Linked DNA regions of Homo sapiens: regions 2 and 3 are each linked to region 1. The links come from fine-mapping of genetic effects on gene expression. A gene starts in region 1. Each other region holds a variant in brackets. All regions are shown on one strand. Distances are between the middles of the regions.

What was found.
Region 2: its variant is fine-mapped to the expression of CD38 in whole blood (TOPMed, PIP above 0.99).
Region 3: its variant is fine-mapped to the expression of CD38 in subcutaneous fat (GTEx, PIP 0.97).

The regions. Positions count from the first base shown.
Region 1 is chr4:15,775,148-15,783,335 of GRCh38, forward strand. CD38 (CD38 molecule) reads left to right here and starts at 3,181. Exons shown (of 8, transcript NM_001775.4): 1 at 3,181-3,500. The coding sequence starts at 3,268. RefSeq lists enhancers at 2,966-3,608, 3,020-3,519 and silencers at 3,650-3,699, 3,890-3,939.
Region 2 is chr4:15,751,986-15,760,173 of GRCh38, forward strand. It overlaps LOC107986186 (a long non-coding RNA gene), which reads right to left and starts at 4,441. Exons shown (of 2, transcript XR_001741393.2): 1 at 4,339-4,441; 2 at 2,086-2,556. It also overlaps a transcript of BST1 not described here. The variant T/A (reference allele first, on the strand shown) is at 4,727.
Region 3 is chr4:15,807,854-15,816,041 of GRCh38, forward strand. The region is part of intron 1 of CD38 (CD38 molecule); the gene reads left to right. Among named protein-coding and RNA genes, the nearest start is that of CD38, 34 kb to the left of the region's middle. RefSeq lists an enhancer at 4,459-5,178. The variant A/G (reference allele first, on the strand shown) is at 4,870.

The sequences.
Region 1 (8,188 bases):
GATTCCTCTTGTCACTATCATCAATAACTTTCAGGGCACCCTTCCTCTTGTCTCAGGGATCATCCTTCCCAGTTCTCTTTGCTGAAGCTCTCTCATCTTTCTGGCCTCTGTCACAGGAGTAGCCCATGGCTGAGACTCTGAAACTCTTCTGTTTCTGCACACACTCTTCACATGATCTTATATATACACTCTTGGCTTTAAGAACTGTCCATATCTAAGGTCTCCCTTATTAGTGTCTCCAGCATTAATCCCTTGCCCAAACTCCAGAAGCTTATACCCAAGTGGCTCCTTGATGCCTCCTGTTGGGGGTCTAATAGACATCTCAAACTTAGCACATCAAAAACCAAATTCTTGATTCATGCCTCTTCCCAAGACCAAATCTACTTCACCTCCCGTTTTCCCATCACTGTAGATTGCAGTGCTTTCCTTCCTTTGGTCAGTTACACAAATAAAAAATCTTGGCATCATCTTTGACTCATCTCTTTCTTGCAAATGCTACATCCAATTCATCAGCAAATCCTGCTGCTGCTACCTTCAAACTCTATTCAGAATCCATCTTTTTTTTTCTTTGCCACCTTCATTACTGCTACTACAGCCATTGTAACTGTTCTCCATCCTTATCCTCCTACAATTTATTCTTAATACCAAAGCCAGATTGATCCTTTAAAATAATATGCCAGATCAAGTCATTTGGTGACTTGTATGGGTAAAAATAAAATGCACACGAATGGGTTAAAAATAAAATCCAAAAACAGGCACATAGACCAATGAAACAGAATAGAGATCTCAGAAATAAGACTCACATCTACAACCATCTGATCTTTGACAGACCTGACAAAAACAAGCAATGGGGAAAGGATTCCCTATTTAATAAATGGTGCTGGGAAAACTGGCTAGCTATACGCAGAAAATTGAAACTGGATCCCTTCCTTACACCTTTTTCAAAAATTAACTCAAGATGGATTAAAGATTTAAAATGTAAAACCCAAAACTATAAAAACCCTAGAAGAAAATCTAGGCAATACCATTCAGGACATAGGCATGGGCAAAGATTTCATAATGAAAATGTCAAAAGCAATTCCAACAAAAGCGAAAATGACAAATGGGATCCAATTAAACTCAGGAACTTCTGCACACCGAAAGAAACTATAATCAGGGTGAACAGACAACCTACAGCATGGGAGAACATTTTCAAAATCTATCCATCTGACAAAGGTCTAATATCCAGAATCTACAAGGAACTTAAACTAATTTATAAGAAATAAACAACCCCATTAAAAAGTGGGCAAAGGACATGAACAGATATTTCTCAAAAGAAGACATTTATATAGCCAACAAACATATGAAAAAAAGCTCAACATCATTGATCATTAGAAAAATGCAAACCAAAACCACAATGAAATATCATCTCATGCCAGTCAGAATGGTGATCATTAAAAAGTCAATAAACAACAGATGCTGGTGAGGTTGTGGAGAAATAGGAACACTTACACTGTTGATGGGAGTGTAAATTAGTTCAACCATTGTGGAAGACAGTATGGGGATTCCTCAAAGATCTAGAACCAGAAATACCATTTGACCCAGCAATCTCATTACTGGGTATATACCCAAAGGAATATAAATCATTCTGTTATAAAGATACATGCATGCATATGTTCATTGTAGCACTATTCACAATAGCAATGACATGGAATCAACCCAAATGCCCATCAATGACAGACTGGATAAAGACAATGTGGTACATATACACCAGGGAATACTGTGCAGCCACAAAAAGGAACGAGATCATGTCCTTTGCAGGGACATGGATGGAGCTGGAAGCCATTATCCTCAGCAAACTAACACAGGAACAGAAAACCAAGCACTGCATGTTCTCACTTATAAGTGGGAGCTGAACAATGAACACAGGGAGGGGAACAACACACACTGGGGCCTGTTGGGGAGAGTGGAGGGAGGGAGAGCATCAGAAAGAATAGCTAAAACATGAGGGGCTTAATACCTAAGCAATGGATTGATAGGTGCAGCAAACCACCATGGCACACATTTACCTATGTAACAACTCTGCACGTCCTGTACATGTATCCCAGAACTTAAAACAAAATAAAAAAGATAAAAAATAAATAAAACACACAGTCCAAAAAGTCATCCTGTCTTACAGAGCTATGGGTGATCTGGTCTCCTGCTACTTTCCGAACTTCTGTTCTGTTTCCCTCAACCCTCTAGCCTAACTACAATTGGCCTCCTTGCTGCTCTGGAACAGGCCAAGAGCTTTTCTGCCTCAGAGTCTTTGCACCTGCCATTTCCTCTGCTTGGGAAATGTTTGCCCCAAGGGAGTTGGGTGACTTGATCGCTCACATTACTTAGGTCTCTGCTTGAATGTCACAGATGTTCTCTTAATAAAGAAGAGGCAAGAAAAGCCACTTTATTATTTATTAAACTCCCGCATAGAGTGCAGTATTATTACTGTGTGCCAGACCCTGCTTCAAACACATTCCATGGACTATAAAATTGCATCTCTGAGCAGCTCCTAGAGCTGGTAGTAACAACTTACATTTACTGGGTGATTACCATGTGCCAGGTATTGTGCTAAACACGTTGTAGATATTAACTCACTTAATCCTCGTAACAATCCCATGAAGTAGGTACTGCTACTATCCCGGCTTTACATCTGAAGTACAGAGAGGTTAAGTAACTTGCCCCATGTCATCCAGCAAGAACTAAATTTGAACCCAGAGCTTAGCCACTGATGCCTCTTGAGAGAAGGAGTCAGACTTAAGTTGAGTCTTTAAAGGTGGTTGACCAGGCATTTGTCAGAGTTAAGAAAGAGAGGTAGGACATCCTTTTCCAGGCAGAGGGCATTGTGTGCACACACGTATAGAAGCAGGCAGCCCACCCTCATGCTTTCCAGGAAGCAAATGTGGCTCAGGTGTAAAGTGCCCGGTTGATGAAGGGAGTTAGCGGAGGGAGTATAAGGATGTACTGTCTGCCCCCTTAGGACACCTGCAGAGGATTAAGGTGGCTGTTTCTCCCTGGAGGTGGAGTGGGTGGGTCACTGCACAGGAGCCTATAGTTGTTGGTCTTTTAAACTCTTATTGGTGTAACCAGCCACGGAACTCTGAGGCAAGGGGTTGGGGGTGGGAAGGGAAACAGAGAAAAGGCAAGTGAAACAGAAGGGGAGGTGCAGTTTCAGAACCCAGCCAGCCTCTCTCTTGCTGCCTAGCCTCCTGCCGGCCTCATCTTCGCCCAGCCAACCCCGCCTGGAGCCCTATGGCCAACTGCGAGTTCAGCCCGGTGTCCGGGGACAAACCCTGCTGCCGGCTCTCTAGGAGAGCCCAACTCTGTCTTGGCGTCAGTATCCTGGTCCTGATCCTCGTCGTGGTGCTCGCGGTGGTCGTCCCGAGGTGGCGCCAGCAGTGGAGCGGTCCGGGCACCACCAAGCGCTTTCCCGAGACCGTCCTGGCGCGATGCGTCAAGTACACTGAAATTCATCCTGAGATGAGGTGGGTTGGCGACTAAGGCGCACCGGTGGGCACTGCGGGGACAGCAGGGCCCCGCGCGCAGGGAAGCCGCCCGGATCGCCCGGAACCGGGCATCTTCCGTGGCGGGTCAGCCGAGAGCCCGCCGGGTGGTGCTGAGTAGGGAGTCCCGGGCTCGGGGCTCCGCGGGCCGCTTTCAGGAGCAGCTGGCCTTGGCACCGAGCGTGCCCGCGGGAGGCGGGGGGGGGCGCTGCTCGGTGGCTCTGCTGCGTAGCCGGTGAACACTTGGCACCGATGCCCGCCTTCTGGGCAAGGTGCCCTGAGCCCAGCCCCTCGCCGGGCTGCAGCCCACCCTCGGCGCGCTCAGCCCGCTTCACCGCTTCAGGGACGGAATAGAACTCGCAGATGCAGGGTGTCGCTGACATTTTCAACTTTTTCTGCGGTTTCCGCCCGCTGTCTCTGACCCGAAAGTGCCCCCGGACGGTTACAGAGGACACTTAAGTGGTTTGCAAAGCCTGTGGTAGGGGAGGAGGGTGTAGAAGGGCCAAACCACGGAACTTAGTTTTATTCATTTATATAAAGCAGCACTCCGATTCTTTTTGCGCGGCCTGAAATGCATGTGACCAGAGAAGTAATTAACAAAACAATGTCAACTTCTAAAACCGAGACATTACTTAGATGATAAGGCGCAGCAACTCGGTGAATCTGTACAAACCTTGGAAAAAAAACACATTAGTCTATGGGACCTTCCAGTTTTCTCATGCTCCTTTCCAGCTACTAACCTCTCCTAAAGGGAACAACCACTTTTTGGATTTGATTCCCAGGCCTCGCTTTCACCGGGAAATTATCGTTGCTTGTAAAACAGAAGAAGCCGGGAAGGCAGGCAGGGGGAGCTGCTACTTTACACTCTGTGCTTTGGGATAGCAAAATCCCGCATTTAAGCAATCCGAGGAAACGAGCAAATAGACCTCCCTCGCCTCTCCGAGCACACTCAACAGTTCCGGTTGCAAAATGTTTGCCTCCTGGGCTTCCCAGCGTCCCGTTAGTTGTTCTATTTACACATAATTAGATACTTAATGGAGAGAGAAACTAGAAGTTGAGGCGTTCCTCCAGGCTGTATTGTAAAGTATGAAGTGAAATCCAAAATGAAATGGTAATGTTAGAAAGCAACCTCATTAAAAAAAAAAAAAGTAACACTGGTCTTGAAGATCTTTCAATGTGAGTACATAAAGATCTATCTCATTTCTTTTGACAGCCCATAGTATTTCATAAACTAGATGTAACCATTTCCTATTGACAGGAAATTAGCTTGTTTCCAATTTTTCAATCCCATTCATTCATCCAACAAGTATCTGTTGAGCACCCACTATGTTCCAGACAGTGATCTAGCTACTGATGACACAAGAGTGAATGACGAAGTTCTCACTCATGAAATTTTCACCTTAGTTGGGAGAAACATGATGCAATGAAAATCTTCATACATACATTGTGTGTACATATGGGAGTATTTCTGTAGGATAGATTTCTAGTGATGAAACTGCTGAGTAAAAGGGAGAATTATGCATATTTTAAGTTTTGATTTTTCCAAATTCCAGGTATTCCATATATACTCCAAAATAGTTGTGCCATTTTACTCTCCCATCATCAGTCTATCAGAGGGGATGCTTTCCCACAATCTCTTGAATGCTGAATATTTTCAACTTTTTTACTTAAGAGAAAAAAGAGCATCTAATTGTTCCCTCAGTATCAGTGAGTCTAAGCATCTTGTATATGTTTATTTGCCATTTATATTTTTTTCTGTGATTTTCCTGTCCAGATACTTGATACTTTCTATTGAGCTGCTTATTTATTTCTTATGGGAGATTTTTATATATTTTAGATAATATTCTCTCTCTCACACACACACACACACACACACACACACACACACACACACACACACACATACAGTCTTACAGCCACATCCCTGAAATCTTGACCTTGTGAACATGTTTTACTGGCAGCACTCTGGACTCGATCATTGCCTTGAGACTATTTCTTTTTTGATATTCTTTGGAAAGACTAACAATGACAGTTTTATTTTCAAACCCAACAAATCCTGGCATGGAAATGTTTGCTCTTGATTCTGCTTTTAAAAAAATAAAGAATTATTTTCTCTCTTTCTTTCTGCACCTTATCAGAAACAGCTAAAAGAAGTGAGTTGGGCCAGGCACTGTGGCTCACACCTGTAATCCCAGCACTTTGGGAGGCCCAGGCAGGTGGATCACTTAAGGTCAGGAGTACAAGACCTGCCTGGCCAACATGCTGAAACTCCGTCTCTACTAAAAATACAAAATTAGCCGGGTGTTGTGGCGCGTGCCTGTAATCCCAGCTACTCTGGAGACTGAGGTGGGAGAATCGCTTGAACCCAGGAGGAGGAGGTAGCACTGAACCAAGATCCAGCCTGGCCAAGAGAGTAAGACTCCGTCTCAAAACCAAACCAAACCAAACCAAAAAAAGAAGTGAGTTGGCACTTTCAACATTCTGCCTGGAAATCTCCTTACCAAACCTATAAGATCATTAGGTATATTTTCTGCACTTTGTATTGTGACAGGTGACAGTGTTACCAAACTTTTTACCAGGACATAATAGGGTCTGCCTTTCTTCTAGTTGCTAACAATTTCCCCCAAGTCCATCTTGCCTGCACTAACAGTCTCCTTTAGACCTCTCCTCTCCTGCCTGTCACACATTCCTAGTACTAATGCTACAGTATAGTAGTAAGGGTCTCCAGAGAAACAACATTTATATAACATAATATAAATACATTAATAGAGAGAAAGAGATTTTAAGAAATTGGCTTATATCATTGTGAAGTCGGGCAAGCCCCAAATCTGCTGGACAGGCCAGCAGCCTGGAGACCCAGGGAAGAGTTGATGTTGCAGCTGGAGTCCAAAGGCAGTCTCTGGCAGAATTCTCTTTTACTTCTGGGACCTTGGTCTTTCTCTTAAGGCCTTCAACTGATTGGATGAGGCCCACCACATTATGAAGGGTAACATGCTTTACACCGAGTCTCCTGACTTAAAATCTAAAAAATACCTTCACATCACAACTAGATGTGTTTGACCAAATATCTGGATACCATGCCTGGGCGAATTGCCACTTAAAATTAATCATCACGTACATGTTTTAAGGTTTTGTTACACAAGACCTCACTTCCAAGTATCACTTTCTGTTTTGGTCATCAGTTGCTGCATAATAAACAACCACCCTAAAATTTAGTGACTTAAAACAACAATCATTTATTGTCTGCCATGGTTCTGTGGTTTGACTGGGATCAGCTGAGTGGCCTGTTTCACTTGGTGTCAGCTGGGGGTGTAGGCATCTGCAACATTGTCTTGGCAGGAACATCCAAGATGTCCCACTTAACACGATGGCTCCTGGGCTCAGCTGGGCTGGTCAGGCCTCCCTTCCTCTCTGTGTTGCCACACGGCCTCTCTCTATCCATGTGGCCTCTCCATATGGTCTCTCCCTGGTGGAGGTGAATTTCTTCAAGGTTTCTAAACTCTCAAAAGTGGAGCCTGGCAAGCCCACTCAAAGCTTCAGATCCACAACTGGCACAGCTTCCCTTCCACAGATTCTATAGGTTAAAACAATCACCGGACCAGCCCAGATTCAAAAGAAGGAGAAACAAACTCCACCCCTCCATGGAGGAAGTAGCAAAAATAATGTAGACAGTTTTTACCCTTTACATCTGGATTTGTTAGCTTTTCTGTTTTCATTTTCTTCTGGTCTTTCTTTTGTCCTTCTCTTACACTTATTTTATTACCTTTTATCAATTAGCTTTTAAGATGATAAAAATCTAATACATGCCTCCTGGAATGTCTTCTTGAGCCTAGGGACTTTTGTTTAATGATATATCTTGAGGACCTAGAATAGTGCCTGAAATACAATAGTCATTAAATATTTAGCTGAATTAAATGAATGGTATATAAGCCAGGGTATTAAAAATAACATAAACAAAGTTGTAATAAATATACTTCCCCAGTGAACGACCTAATACCATTACTCCCCAAACCCTCAATTTCTGTCTTGAGCATAGAAACTGTTAATTTTTCCTTTGTGTAGTAGGTCCTTAGTATTTCTTTAGAGGTTGTAGCACTTTATCTTCCTCACTGTTCCTTTTCCTTGGTTGTCCTTTTCCAAACATCTCTCAACAATTTCTCCCAAGTCCATCTTGCCTGCACTAACAGTCTCCTTTAGAACTCCCCTCTCCTGCCTGTCACACAGTCTTAGTAATAGTGCCACAGTATAGTAGTAAGGGTCTCCAGAGAAACTCACTTTCTGCAAGTTTTTTAGTGTGGGTAGGTGAGTATTGAAGCTTGTTCTTGGCGTTACCAGGTTGGTTCTTTGAGTTGAACCAGGGGCATTACATGCGGAATATTCCTGAACAGATCACCTCTGGTTCTGCTGTCTCAAGGGCCACACACAAGAGCTGCCTTCTGACCAAGATGTCTCTGGGCACATGAGACCTGAAATACACATGGCCAAGACTCAACAAAGCGTTTGCTGACTGTCAGAGCTGACAGCATCTCGGTACTGTGGGAGGGAGCCCAGTGTCTGGTGATAGTCAGGACGGACCCAGGTGATGTCAGGGGTGGGGTGGGGCCTGCAGGAGGGAATGGAGAGCCAGCACCTAGGGGAAGCTGGGAATTTAGGAAGATATCCAGAGAGTG
Region 2 (8,188 bases), 23 kb before region 1:
CATGCTAAGGAGATTTAGTTTTGCACTGAAAGCAAAGGAAAACCATAAAAGATTAAAAAACTTTGACAAGAGAGGTGTATGATCAGATTTGTGCTTTGATCATTAATTCATTAAACAGCTATCATTGTGTGTTTATGAGTTCCAGGTGTTCTTCTAAGTTCTAGGATCTATTCAGTAAATGGGCAATTGTGCATATGTTCTTGTAGTGCACATTCTAGTGGGTGGAGATAATAAATAGCTTGTATAAGGAATAAATTGTATTTTCGAAGGTGATGCATGCTCCAGGAAATAATACAACATGGAAAGCTAGGCTGGGGCTATGGTTTTAAATGAGAAGTCTGGATAGGCCTCATTGAGAAGATGATGTTTAAACAAAGATTTGAAGGAGTGAAGGAATCAAGCTATTCTTTTTTTTTTTTTGAGACAGAGTTTCGCTCTTATTGCCCAGGCTGGAGTGCAATGGCGCAATCTCGGCTCACTGCAACCCCCGCCTCCCGGGTTCCAGTGATTCTCCTGCCTCAGCCTCCTGAGTAGCTGGGATTACAGGTATGTGCCACCATGCAGAGCTAATTTTGTATTTTTAGTAGAGACACGGTTTCTCCATGTTGGTCAGGCTGGTCTCAAACTCCTGACCTCAAGTGATCCACCTGCCTCAGCCTCCCAAGCCATTCTTATATCTATAGAATGAACATTTCAAGCAGAAGGAGCAGAAGCAAAGGCCCCGTGGTAGCCATGTGTCTGAACTATTTGAGGAACGGCAAGGAGGCCAGGATGGCAGGATCAAGGTGAGGGAAGAAAATAGGCCAGATCAGGTCAGGCCTTGCAGGCTATTTCACTGGCTTTTTTTGGAATGAGATGGAAAGCCAGTAAAGGCCCACTGGAGAGAGGCTTCTGGCCACTGCACATTGATGCTGGTTGATAATGTAAATAGTACATATAAATCACTAAGAAGATATAAATCACTAAGAAGATAAAGTGATTTACATATAAATCACTAAGAAATATTTAAATATAAATCACTAAGAAATATAAATATAAATCACTAAGAAATATTTAAATATAAATCACTAAGAAATATAAATATAAATCACTAAAAAATATTTAAATATAAATCACTAAGAAGATAAAGTGGCTGTCCTCTTAGCATTTCATCTGGCAATATATCACCCTCCATCTTCATCTCTCTGATATAAATGTCATATCCAAAATACAGCACGCTGCATTCTTCTTCTAAAATTTCAGATTAGATATGTTCCAGCCTCTGTCTAAGCTGTCTCTATCTCTGGGGCTCAGATATGTCAGAGCTGATAGCATGGGACTTTCAGAAGTCCATTTGTGGGAGGGATTTTTTCAGATAAAGGCGGTCTGGAAAAGGGAGAAGAATTAGAAGGTATCCATCGTATCTGTAGCAGAGATTTTTTATGTATGTGTGTGCTCCTGTGTATACATGTAGAAACCAAACATCCTGAATGGCTCACGATCGCGCCAGTGGGTGTCCTTTGTCCTTGCATAATTATTAGTAGCATCCCTCTCCATTAGGTGAGCCCTAAGGAGAAAGAGTAGGGTCTTTAAGAATGTTACGAGACACAGAGCCACAAACAGTATTGGGATAGGACCCAGCTCTCAAAGTGTGGCCCAGCCATGGCACAGCTGGAGGTTCGCAGAGATGGTGCCCACCAAAGGCAATGATGGGACATACATAAACTGCCTTGCAGGCAGGGAGAGTCCAAATCGGTCAGGGCCCATCCAGACACACAGATAGCACACTCAAATCAGGAAAATCGGAGGAGGTTTAATAGGGACTATCTGCAAACCATTGATGTGTACAGAGATGCACCAAGGCCTCACAGAGTGAGGCAACAGGGAGGTCATGGGAATCCGGAAGGAGAGAGTCCCATGGAGAGGTCATCTGGAGAAGAGCAGTGGCCTCTGTCAAGGAACCCAGTGGCCTGAGGCAACCCTGCAGGGAGGAAGCCAGCTGAGGGAATGGATAACCGGACCTCAGTCACCTTCCTTCCTTTGGGAGAGCCTCCTGGGGCTGGATCCAGGGCAGAGAGCCAAAGGGAGAGGCTGGAAGATCTGGAAGGCCAAGTGGGGGGGTGTGAGGCCACAGCTTCTTCGTGTGTATCATCAGTGGAGATTGAAAAGAGAGGAAAACCACGATGGAGGCCTGTGGGACTGTGGGCAGCTTTTTCAAGTGCAGATGTGATAATCCCCACGAAGACCCCCGGAAATATTGAGAGGGAGGCTCTTTGAAAGGGGATGGTGTTCTGCAGAACAATAGAGGCTTCATGAGTCGCTAAAGTAGAGGTTGTGAGGATTAGTGTGACCCCATTGTGAAAACTGGCCTAAAAGAACCCAAGGAAACAGGGGTATGTTGAGTTCAGGAACATTGCAGAATTTCCAGATGTTCTCTGAAGCATGCACATGTCTAAGATTGTCTCCTCTCTAAGGGTTGTGTGCAGTTTCTTACCTTCTGTGAGCTGGCTGTGAACTCAGTGCCCCTGGGTGGTAGCAGAAGCATGAATGCTGAGAGGAAGGATGTTGCTGTCAGCACTGTGTGGTTTTGAATGAGATAAAGAATCAACGTCAGATGTAGCTGCACACATACTTTATTTTGTTGAATTTCCAACTGATGAAGTATTTGATAAGCATGCCTGAAAAGATGGAAAAAACGGGCTCTTTCCCAGCGGTCCATTTTTGTAATTTAAGTACGTAGATTTGTTTTAGTTTACATTTGGTGATTTTTATGTTATTTCTGAAAAGGTAGTATATACACATGGCTTAAAAATAAAACACTATGAAAAAATCTCATTCCCACTCCTGTCCCCTGTTCTGGTCCCACACCTCTAATTCGGATGACCACTTGTTTAAAGTTCATGTAGATCTGTCTAGGGTTTCTTTGCACAAGCACATACAAATACATGTTATTACTCCCTACCTTTTCTTACACAAAAGGAAGCATTAAACACAAAATACTTTGTACTCCTTAATAGTACATCCTGGAGATTATTCTGTATCAATACATACAGAGATCCCTCACTTTATTTTTTACAGCTGCATAATATTCCATGGGAGAGATGTTTTGTAATTTATTTAACCCACCCCGTTAGGAACATCATTTAGGTTGTTTGCAATCAGTTTCTCTTTTTTTTATTTTTTTATTTTTTTGAGATGGAGTCTCACTCTGTCGCCCAGGCTGGAGTGCAGTAGTGCAATCTCAGCTCACTGCAACCTCCGCCTCCCAGGTTCAAGTGATTCTCCTGCCTCGGCCTCTTCAGTAGCTGGGATTACAGGTGTGCACCACCACGCCTGGCTAATTTTTGTATTTTTAGTAGAGATGGGGTTTCACCATGTTTGTCTGGCTGGTCTTGAACTCCTGACCTCTTGATCCGCCCGCCTTGGCCTCCCAAAGTTCTGGGATTACAGGCATGAGCCACCGTGCCTGGCGCCAGTTTCTCTTATAAACAATGCTGCAATGACTAATCTGGTATATTTATTATCTTTCATGTGGGCAGAGATATTTGTAGGTTGAATTCCTAGAAATGGGGTCAGTGAGTCAAAGAGTAAATGCATTTGCAATATTAATGTATTCATTCTTCACTGGATCTCTGTAGTTTAGCAATGAATTGAACAACTGCATATTATTTATGGGTGAAAAGCCCCAAAGAAAAAAGAAATGCTGAGTCCAGATGTCACCTTCAGTCAATGTAGAGTGGTGGTTACCACCAGTGATGAAGGTCTTAGAGTGTTTATGCATCTGTGAGTGTGTGAGTGTGTGCTCATTTGTGTACTCTGAAAACCCTATTTGAAAAAAAAAACTTAACCATTGGGTTATTAGACAGATAATCACTTCACTCCAATTTCAAATCAATGAGTTTCTTATTCCAGCTTATATTCCAATAGTCCAAAGCTTCCAGGGAATAAAGGTAAAACAATCTGAGAGCTCTGAGTTCCTCCACAGGGCAAGTACCATGTAAACTGATAGATGATGTTAAGGTTCTCAAGGTGGTGACTAAACAGTTCTCCCAGTCTCTGCAACATAAACATAAACTTAAAAATTACACTGTAAGCTAGATCTTCATTTTGAAAATAACCATGGAATTTGAAAAAATAAAACTGAAACAAACAAAACACACCACCATGAACAACAAAAACAACAACAAAACAAGGGGGAAAAACCGACTTTCTGGTGTTTTTGCTAAAAGACTGCAGGGTGGGTTGGGGGAAGCTCTTCTCATAAAAGAAAAGTACTAGACAATCTGGTCTTTTAAAGGGTCTTGAAAACAGATTATGCAGTAAAACTGAGCTGTCAAAGACCCTCAGAGATGGTCGTACCTGGCTAGTCCTATGAAGCGCCCAGCTAGAGGAGAGTTTTCTTTCTCATTTTCAATCGTGGTTTGTGGTTAAAGATGTGCATGCCAATGGCAGGTCTGGGGGTGAGATGTGTTTGAAAAAACGTTGAATTTATATTTGCAGTACCAGCCAGACTCAGGAAGTGACACTCAACCACATTTTCCTGACCTGGGTGGAGATTAGTTGAGAGTGTGTTTGATAGGTTAACACATGTTGAGAAACATTTTGACATAGGACGTGTTGCATATAACTAGTTTTATGAAGATGATGTCCTTAATGGGTATATCTTCTATGAATGACTCAGGTCATCATCATAGACTTGGGTTATTGTAACATCTAGCAGGTATGTTGCGCTGTGGAGAGCTGTTTT[T/A]CCCCCTAGCGGCCTCGGAGGGTGAGGTTTGGAGTGCTATTCACATTTTTCTGTGCACTGGCTGTGCAATGGCCAGCCATATCTCTTTCCAAGATGCTCATTTGTTGGGGCTCAGGATGCACCACCTCAAAACATACTGTGGGAGACAAGATGTGCCACCCCAAAATACACTTCCTGGCATATTTCAAGCTGGTTATTCAGATACACTGCAGACGCAGGAGTATCTCTGAAAAGCTGCCCTTTGTAAAAGAAATGTATGCCTATTGTAAATTGAAAGTTAAGTTTCTTGTAAAAGAAATCTATATTAGTAAAACCATCTGTATCAGGAAGAGGGCTGTTCCTAGACAATTTTTATTACCTGAGATACTTTATTTGCATAACAAGACAAACTTTTATTCACCTTATATTTCCTCCCTCCCCTTCTCATAGCTTGTCTCTACCACCCTCAGAAGCCCCAAGCTCCTCCTATTCCTTTCTGTAGCTCAGGCTGCTATATAAGCTTCAATCATCTGGTCTTTCTTCAACTCTCATATTTTCGCGGGACCCCTGTGCCAACGTGTGTAGTTAAACATAGCTTTTTTTCTTGCTAATCTGTTGTGTGCTGATTTAATTCACAGCCATGCCAAAGAACCCAGGAGGGTGGAGGTAGACCATTTGGTTCTCCCTGCACGAACTGCAGTGTATTTTTTTGGGCCCAAGGTCAAATACCAGCTCCACTGTCCTAGTCCTGTGACCTTGGCTGAACAGAATAATGATCCTCCTGTCTATAAAGAGGACAAAAGCACACCCCCACCCCGCCCCGCAGACTGTTCTGAACAGTGGTCCCCTGTTAAAGAAAACTTCTCCTCAACTTCACTCCCTCTTCACCATTTCTTTCCATTAATATTACAGAGAATCCTTTATAGGGAATTTCTTTTAAAAATTTTATTTATTTATTTATTTATTTAGAGAAAGAGTTTTGCTCTTGTTGCCCAGGCTGGAGTGCAATGGCAGGATCTCGGCTCTCTGCAACCTCCATCTCCTGGGTTCGAGTGATTCTCCTGCCTCAACCTCCCAAGTAACTTGGACTACAGGCATGCGCCACCACACCTAGCTAATTTTTGTATTTTTAGTAGAGACAGGGTTTCTCCATGTTGATCAGGCTGGTCTTGAACTCCCGACCTCAGGTGATCCGCCCTCCTCGGCCTCCCAAAGTGCTGGGATTACAGGCATGAGCCACCGCGCCCGGTGGGATTTTCTTAAACATTAAATGTCTAATGTTTTAAAAACCCAATAACATCAGCATTTTTAATAACAATTTTTATTGTAAATTGACAATTTATAATTGTGTATATTTCTGGATACAACGTGATGTTATAATTTATAAATACAATGTAGGATAATTAAATTAAGCTAGTTAACATATCCATCATCTCAAATATTTAGCATTTTTTTTCAACTTTTATTTTAGTTTCAGGGGGTACATGGGCAGGTTTGTTACACAGGCAAATTGTGTGTCACTGGGGTTTGGTATACTAATGATCTTATCACCCAGGTAGTGAGCATAGTACCTGACAGCTGGTTTTTCAGCCGTCCCTCCCCTTCCGCCCTGTCTCCTCTAGTAGTCCCCAGCGTCTATTGTTTCCATCTTTATGTCCATGTGCACTCAATATTTAGCTTTCACTTAAACGTGAGAACATGTGGCATTTGATTTTCTGTTCCTGCATCAATACACTTAGGACAATGGCCTCCATTATCCTAAGCTACATCTTTTGCGGCTGTATCCATGTTGCTGCTAAATATGTGGAATACTATGCAGCCATAAAAAAGAATGAAATCATATCCTTAGCATTTTTTTGTCATGAGAACATTTGAAATTTACTCTCTTAGCAATTTTGAAATGTATGATACTGTTTGTTAACTATATTCACCACACTATGCAATAGATTTCAAAGAAACTTCCATATTCCTTCTGAGATTTTTGTACCTTGTTCATCATCTCCCTAACACCCTCACCCTCTAGCCTCTGTAACCACCAGTTTATTCTCTGGTTCTACGAGTTTGATTGTTTTAGATTCTTCATTTAAGTGAGAATATGCAGTATTATTTAAGATCATTTAATTAAGTTTTAGTATGTATAAAGTATTTGGCGTCAATGCCTACCTATTTCTATGGAATGAAACAGAACAAAACATTTCCCACCTGAACCACAACCTGCATGCTGGTGTTGTCTTCACTGCAGGTGGATTACGGAGCTATGGCCTACACACCTCAGTGCCTTTTGTAGGAAATCATGGCTAAGAGTCAATGCTTGGAATCAGGTGGACAGGCATCAAGTCCCATTTCCACCACACGTATCTGTGTGTCCTCAGTTAAGTTAACTGACCTCTGTCTGCCATAGTCAAAATTCCTAGTTATGTATATCAAAAACTATCTCCTGGTGTATATTACAGAATATTAGGAAGCTCAAGCATCTCAGGGACGGAGAAGGACTAAGGAAAGAGCCAAGAATAACATCCAGATTATACTACTGGTCCACTATGGAGCCCACTACCCAGATTTCTGGGCGAAAGAAGATGGATGTGCTGCTCAAGGGCTGACTGGTAGAACGCCCAGCAGTGGCACCTCTGAAAATGCTGTATTCACCACACTCAAGTTTTCAAATCTGTAAAGCAGGTATAGTAAGAATATTTACCTCATGGGGTTATTATGCAGATTTGATAACACTGTGTATAGAAAGACCCCAGTATGGTGTTTGGCACTTAGTAAATGCTCAGTTAATGTTTCTGCTCCATTTCCTCCTTCATTTTCTTCTACCTTAACTTCTCATCTATTTTCATTTTTCTTCTTTTTTCTTTCTCTAACTTCTTCCTCCTCCTGTTTTTCTCACTTCTTCACTTCTCTTCCATCCCCTTTCTTCTTCCTCATTCCTTATTTCTCTTCCTAAGAGTTGGTAAGAGGCAGCGTATGACTATTCTGCCAATGGAAACCATTTTCCCTGTTTCTGTAACAGGGGGTGTCATGGGGTACAGCACCAAAGAGCTACTATTTAGTTGGATATTACCATAAGTTAATAAAGGCTCAATACCCCGCTTTCTCCTTTACTTCCCCCCTCCACTCCCAGTATTTACCCAGTGGCATCAAATCTGGAATGGGCTATCTTCATATCAGAACCAGGAAAAATGGAAGGGAGTTACACCAGAAACCATAAACCCTATGTGAGGAGGGATTTTGTTTAACATCTTTTTTTGAGATCGAATTTACAAACATAAAATTTATCCTGAAAGTATATGATTTAGTAGTTTTTAGCATATTCAGTTTTGTGACTATCACACAAGTTTAGAACATTCCTCTCAACCCCAAGGAAACCCCATTCCTATTGGGCTGTCACTCCTCATTCCCCAACATGCAGCCCTAGGGAACTTCTAATCTACTTTCCGTCTCTATGGATTTGCCTAGTCTGGATATCTCATGTAAGTGGAA
Region 3 (8,188 bases), 33 kb after region 1:
GAGGCATGATTCCCTGGAAGATCATGTAAGCTGTACAATTCTCTATGGAATAAATTGGAGACTTCATCCCTTAGATCCCTTTGACTGTGTGAGGAACCCCACGAAACCTCACTTAGTGACTTTATTCATTCTTCTGGGCCTGAAAGCATATGTCTCATGCAGGAAGGAAGGCAGGACCAGTGGGGCTTTGCAGGTTGTGCCATTCTCTCCTTGCTTTGCTTGAGACTCTTTATTACCTGTCTCCCTGACATTATTTGTAGTGTGATTCTGGGTGTGTTCTGTGATTCTTGTGACTAGGTATCCAATTTTGCTTAAGGATGCAAGGAAGTGTTTGGGGAGAAAGCTCTATTGGAAGAGGTCTGTAGTCCTAGCCTCCCTCCCCACCCCACATTTCACATCATTAGACCTCAGCACATGGGTCTGGGGCACCAACACTGTCTTACCTGTTACACAGTGTGGTCTTTATCTGGATGAGGGATGCGAAAGGATACATTGTGACCAAGAGACCTGGGAGAGGCACAAAAATAACAGGTGACCACCAAGGGTGCTTGGACCTGAGATGTTTCCATTTCCTAAGACCCTCCAAGATTCTCCAACATTTGGTATAGTTGCCCAGGCAATTTAACAAGAAAATCAAATTTTTGTTATGACCCCCATTGTAATTTATGCTTATCGCAGAAAAATTGAGACTATAAGAAGGAGAATAGAAGGTCACAAAACCACTCTATACTAGTCCAGGGATAGCTATTCTTACAACATGGATTGATCAGTGTGGGGTGATTTCTCCTAGTGTTTTTTGGACAGAGAAGCATTGAAGATGCCCTGGTTTTAAGGTCTTAGGATGAAGGAATTATAGTTGAACAGTTCAAAATGATGTTATGAATTACTTTCAGATTTGTTTGCTTGATTGCATTAGCCTTGCCTGGCCCTACGGTAACTATTTGGTTCCATCATGGTGGCTGAGTAGGTGGCTCTGGAAAAAGAGCTATTCAAGAAAAGCTTTTCTTTCTCTAAAAATATTGTAGGGGGCTCGCCCTCTGTTCTTGGAAGCAACGTTTGGGATGGCCTCTTGGGAGGCTGTCTGGTGAAGTGTCTAGGGGTATGTGGTCTGGACTTGGACAGGACAAGATGCAAATTCTGGCTGGGATATTCTAGTTGTGGAGTGTTGGGCAAGTTACTTGGTCTTCTGAGTTTATAGGTAAACTGGAGATAATAGGTATGTGTGAATGAGGATCCAATGAGATGCCTGTAAAACACTTAGCCAGATGGCTGCGTGAAGAAAGCACTTGGTAAATGCTAATTGTTGTGGTTGTTATAATTAGTACAATGATTAGTCATTGCTGATTGTTGGCTAACTGGCGGTAAGAAATGAAAGTAAAGTAAGGCAGTAGCAGCTGAGGGAGGTGGTGGAGGGAATCAGGAGACACTTGGAGGTTCTGGTTCTGCCTGAGTTTAAGTGCTGGGGAAAACTAGTTGAATAACTGCTGGTCTAACATTTAACAGCTGTGTGACCTCGGGCTAGTCACATTTCCTTTATAAACTTCCTTTTTCTCATTTGCGAAATGAAGGGGTTTCGTTAGGTTACTTCTCATCACCCCTGGTTGACCATTAGAATCGTTTGGGAGACCTTTTTAGAAATTCTTGGTTCTGGGGTCTTCCATTTTCCCCATTCTCACTTGGTGGGTCTGAAAGCAGGCACTGCAGCTTTTCCAAAGCTCTTCAGGTGACCTTGAAGTGTGGCCAGGGCTGAGAACCTCTGACTTCCAACAGCACTTCTGGTTTAGGAAGGAGCAAATCACCGGCACAGAATGAGCTCTCAGGAACGGCTGCTGAGCTAGTAATTGCCGTGACACTGTCTCCCTGTCCCAACTGCAGGCACCCCTAGACGTCTCCTGATGAAGACTTCCAATTTTGGAACAGAAGAATCTTTGAAAAAAATATTATTGAACTTCCAGAAATGATTCATTCCTTCTCTGCTCCTTCTTTAGTTGGAAAGATCTGCCCCCATCCCTGTCTACTGCAGTCCCAATCCCTTTTTATTTCAACATATATATCCAAACCAACAAAAAAATTGACTCGCACAACCAAGGTGAGGTGTTTGGCTTTAAGGATAAAATAAATAGTTTCATAAAACCTGCCCCCAGATTTCTCATTGCCTCTACTCATTTTCTCTAATTTGTAGGGCACACTGAAAGCTCGGATTCATAAGATGTAGAAAGGGCAGAGAGTTAAGTTACAAACTCTTCCTAGGTCTGTTTCAACTCTAACGTTCTATAGCTCTGCTCCGTCTAAACAAGGAATTCTGTTAAATTTGTAACCTGGACTTTCTTGAATACTGAGGTAATGTTTCTTGAAGTAGGATATATATACCCAAGAAGAATAAAAATAATTCTGGAGGTGTCTTAATTCTCTGTGGGACTCAATAAAAGTTTTGGTGATTATATATAAACACACTTATGAAAGCATCTGGTACATGTAGGTGCTCAGTGCACATGAATTTCTCTTTCCTGCCAGATCTTTTGTAGTGGAAAATTATCTTATTCTTCCATCTTTGTCTGCAAAGATGCTGCTAAGGAAAGATGTAGAAGAGTTTTACAAGGGAGTTGGAGTATGGGAACAGGAAGTTCCCAAGAAGGCCACTGCATTAATAGAATTGAAACAAGATCCCCTAAAGGAAAATCGCTGCCAAATCTCTTTTCTCTAAACTATCCAAAATGGTGCCCCATAAATTTTCATTGACATTGAAGTACATAATGTAATAAGCTTTTTTTTCCTTAAATATATAATGTACGGAGAAAACCAGGTTGATAATGGTTTCCTGGCATAGCTTTCAAAGGCAAGTGTGGATGAAGTGGAAATATGGTGCACAGATATTGGAAAGAAACCGCTGTTGAACTCTTCACATTTTCATGTATAACCCAATGATTCTCAAACCTAAACTTGCATCAGAATTGCCTGGAGGGCTTATTAAAACATGATTGTTGGATGCCACCCTTGCATTAATTAATTACACCTGCAACTGTTCTATTTTTAAATGGTCACATTTTAAGGTACTGGGCTGAGGACTTCATTATGTGAGTTTCAAATGGGACATAATTCAACCCCTAGCCCAATCCTAGTGAGTGGTGAGTGGTATCTCTTCGTTTTGATTTCTACTTCCCTAGTGACTAATGATGTTGAGCATTTTTATGTGTGTTTATTAGCCATTTTTATATCTCTTATGAAAAAATGTGTATAAAATTATTGGCCCATTTGTTAATTGGGTTATCCATTTATTATTGAATTATAAGAGCTCTTTACTACTCTGGATGCAAGTCCTGAAACAGAAATAATATTTACAAATATTTTAATCCATTCTGTGAATTTTATTTTCACTTTCTTGATGGCGTCCTTTGAAGAACGTAGGATTTTAATTTTGATAAAGTGTAATTTATGTATTTTTTCTTTTGTTGCTGTGCTTTTGGTATCATATTTAAGAAATAATTGCCTAATCCAAGGTTATGACAATTTTTTATTCTATGTTTGCCTCTAAGAATTTTCTAATTTTACCTTTTATATTTAGGTCTTTCATTCATTTTGAGTCAATTTTTGTATATGGTGTAAAGTATGGGTCCTAATTTATTCTTTTGCATGTGGATATCTTGTTGTCCCTGCACCATTTGTTGAAAAGTGTTGTTTTTTTTTTCCCATTGAATGGCCTTGGCACTCTTGTCTAAAATTAATTGATGGTAACTGTAAGACTTTATTTCTGGACTCTTTATTCCATTGATCTATATTTCTATCATTGTTACTGAGCAATGTGCTTGCTGCCTGACAGATAGGGAAGCCAATATTATGGAACTGGTTTTTGAGAAAAGCAAAAGCTTTATCGTGAGGTTGACTTGCAAGGAAACAGGATGCAAAGCTCAAATCTGTCTCCCCTTCTGGGATCTGGGACAAGTTTTATGGGTTAGGGAGGGCAAGCTGGTATGCAGAAGCACTGGTAGGGCAGGTTTCAACTGGAAGTACTTTAAACAAGACCATTTATGGTAAGGTATGGTAAGGGTCTTAACACTGGACATGCCTGGGCTCAGGTTTCTTGCTTTTAAAAATGTTTGGGCCCTCAGGTTCCAGTCATGTCTTGACCATTTTCTTCTGTGGTGGGGCAGGAGAGGAATTTTTCTTCTGGGTGTTATTCAAGGTTGAGGTCTTCTTTTCTGCATTGCTTCGGCTGCATGACTTAACAACTTTTTGACTTTGTGCCTGTTAAATAACTTGACATACTATTATCATCAGAGTAGGGCCAGTTAGAACTGGTCCTGTGATTACATCATTATGCCAGTACCAATTATCTTGATTACTGTAGCATTGTAGTAAGTTTTGAAATCAGGAAGTTTGTGTCTTTCAACTTTGGTCTTCTTTTTCAGGATTTTTGGCTCTTCTGTGTTCCTTACATTTCCATATGAATTTTAAGTTAAACTGTCACTATCTGCAAAAGAAGGAACTGGGATTTTTATAGAGATTACATTGAAGCTGTAAATCAGCTTGGAGAATACTGTCATCTTAACAATATTAAGTCTTCTGGCCGGGCACGGTGGCTCACGCCTGTAATCCCAGCACTTTGGGAGGCCGAGGCGGGTGGATCACGAGCTCAGAAGTTCGAGACCAGCCTGGCCAACCTGGTAAAACCCCGTCTCTACTAAAAATAATAATAATAAAAAACTGGGCATGGTGGCATGTGCCTGTAATCCCAGCTACTCAGGAGGCTGAGGCAGGAGAATCATTTGAACCCTGGAGGCAGAGGTTGCAGTGAGCCGAGATCGCACCATTGCACTCTAGCCTGGGCAACAGGGCGAGATTCTGTCTCAAAAAAACAAAAACAAAAACAAT[A/G]TTAAGTCTCCTGATCCATGAATGTAGAATGTTTTTCCATTTGTTCAGGTCTTCTTTACTTTGTAACAGTGTTGTGTATTTTTCAATGTTCCAGTCCTGTAATTCTTTGTTATATTTACTCCTAAGAATATTAATTGTTTTGCTGCTATTATAAGTGGAATTGTTTAAATTTTGATTTTATATTTTTCATTGATAGTATATTTTTCATTGATAGTATACAATTGATTTTTGTACACTGATTTTGTAACCTGAAACCTTGCTGACCATGTTTACTCGTTCTAACAGTTTCCTTTTTGTGGATTTCTTATAATTTTCTATATACAGTATTTCATGTCATCCATGAAGGGGATAGGTTTACTTCTTCTTATCTAATCTGGATGAGTTTAGTTTATTTTTCTTACCTAAATTCCTTGGCTAGAACTCCAATACAATGTTGAATATAAGTAATGAAATCAGACATCTTTGGACTGTACTTGATTTTAAGGGGGAGCATCCAGTCTTTTGCCATTATGTATAATGTTAGCTGTGGGGTTTAATAGATGAATTTTATCAGGTTGAGGAAATTTTATTTCTAATCTGCTCAGTGTTTTTTTCATCACAAGAGTGTTGGATTTTGTTAATATTTTTGTGTGTCTATTGAGATGATCATATGGTTTTTGTCATTCTACAAAATACAGCACATTAAATTGATGGATTTTTACATGTTAATTTTTTTTTAAATTTTACTTTAAGTTCTGGGACACATGTGCAGAACGTGCAGGTTTGTTACATAGGTATACATGTGCCATGGTGGTTTGCTGCACCTATCAACCTATCATCTAGGTTTTAAGCCCTACATGCATTAGGTATTTGTCCTAATACTCTCCCTCCCCTTGCTCCCCACCCCCGCCGACAGGCCCCGGTGTGTGTTGTTCCCCTCCCTGTGTCCATGTGTTCTCACTGTTCAACTCTCACTTATGAGTGAGAAGACGTGGTGTCTGGTTTTCTGTTCCTGTGTTTTTTAGCTGAGAATGATGGCTTCCAGCTTCATCCATGTCCCTGCAAAGGACATAAACTCATTCTTTTTTATGACTGCATAGTATTCCATGGTGTATATGTGCCACATTTTCTTTATTCAGTCCATCATTTATGGGCATTTGGGTTGGCTCTAAGTCTTTGCTATTGTAAATAGTGCTCCAATAAACATATGTGTGGATGTGTCTTTATAGTACAATGATTTATACTCCTTTGGGTATATACCCAGTAATGGGATTGCTGGGTCAAATGATATTTCTGGATCTAGATCCTTGAGGAATCGCCACACTATCTTCCACAGTGGTTGAACTAATTCACACTCCCACCAACAGTGTAAAAGCATTCCTATTTCTCCACAGCCTCACCAGCATCTGTTGTTTCCTGACTTTTTAATGATCGTCATTCTAACTGGCGTGAGATGGTATCCATTGCGATTTTGATTTGCATTTCTCTAATGACCAGTGATGATAAGCTTTTTTTCATATGTTTGCTGGGCACATAAATGTCTTCTTTTGAGAAGCATCTGTTAATACCCTTCGCCCACTTTTTGATGGGGTTGTTTTTTTCTTGTAAATTTGTTTAAGTTGTAGACTTAGGATATTAGATCTTTGTCAGGTGGATAGATTGCAAAAAATTTCTCCCATTCTGTAGGTTGCCTGTTCACTCTGATGGTAGTTTCTTTTGGTGTGCAGTATCTCTTTAGTTTAATTAGATCCCATTTGTCAATTTTGGCTTTTGTTGCCATTGCTTTTGGTGTTTTAGTCATGAAGTCTTTGCCCATGCCTATGTCCTGAATGGTATTGCCTAGATTTTCGTCTAGGGTTTTTATGGTTTTAGGTTTTACATTTAAGTGTTTAATCCATCTTGAGTTAATTTTTGTATAAGGTGTAAAGAAGGGGTCCAGTTTTTGTTTTCTGTATATGGCTAGCCAGTTTTCCCAGCACTATTAATTAAATAGGTAATCCTTTCTCCATTGCTTGCTTTTGTCAGGTTTGTTGAAGATCAGGTGGTTGTAGACATGTGGTATTATTTCTGAGGTCTCTGTTCTGTTTTTGTTTTTTGTTTTTTGTTTTTTGTTTTTTTTTTTTGAGATGAGATCTCGCTCTGTTACCCAGGCTGGAGTGCAGTGGCACGATCTCGGCTCACTGCAACCTCCGCCTCCCTGGTTCAAGCAATTCTCCTACCTCAGCCTCCTGAGTAGCTGGGATTACAGGCATGTATCACCGCGCCTGGCTAATTTTTGTATTTTTAGTAGAGATGGGGTTTCACCATGTTGGTCAGGCTTGTCTCGAACTTATCACCTCATGATCTGCCTGCCTCAGCCTCCCAAAGTGCTGGGATTACAGGCGTGAGCCACCGTGCCCGGCCAAGGTCTCCGTTCTCTTTCATTGGTCTATATATCTGTTTTGGTACTAGTACTGTAGTTACTGTAGCCTTGTAGTACACTTTGTAGTCAGGTAACGTGATGCCTCCAACTTCGTTCTTTTTGCTTAGGATTGTCTTGGCTATACGGGCTCTTTTTTGGTTCCATATGAAATTTAAAGTAGTTTTTTTCTAATTCTATGAAGAAAGTCAATGGTATCTTGATGGGAATAGCATTGAATCTATCAATTACTTTGGGCAATATGGCCATTTTCACAATATTTATTCTTCCTATCTATGAGCATGGAATTTTTTCTATTTGTTTGTGTCCTTTATTTCCTTGAGCAGTGGTTTGTAGTTCTCCTTGAAGAGGTCCTTATGTCTCTTGTAAGTTGTATTCCTAGGTATTTTATTCTCTTTGTAGCAATTTTGAATGGGAGTTCACTCGTGATTTGGCTCTCTGCTTGTCTATTATTGGTATATAGGAATGCTTGTGATTTTTGCACACTGATTTTATATCCTGAGACTTTGCTGAAGTTGCTTATCAGCTTAAGGAGGTTTTGGGCTGAGACGTTGGGGTTTTCTAAATATACAATCATGTCATCTGCACACAGAGACAATTTGACTTTCTCTCTTCCTATATGAGTACACTTTATTTATTTCTTATGTCTGATTGCCCTGGCCAGAACTTCCAATACTATGTTGAACAGGAGTGGTGAGAGAGGACATCCTTGTCTCGTGCCACTTTTCGATAGGAATGCTTCCAGCTTTTGCCCATTTAGTATGATATGGGCTATGGGTTTTTCAGAAATAGCTCTTATTATTTTGAGATATGTTCCATCGATACCTAGTTTATTGAGAGTTTTTAGCATGAAGGGATGTTGAATTTTATTGAAGGACTTTTCTGCATCTATTGAGATAATCATGTGATTTTTTTCATTGG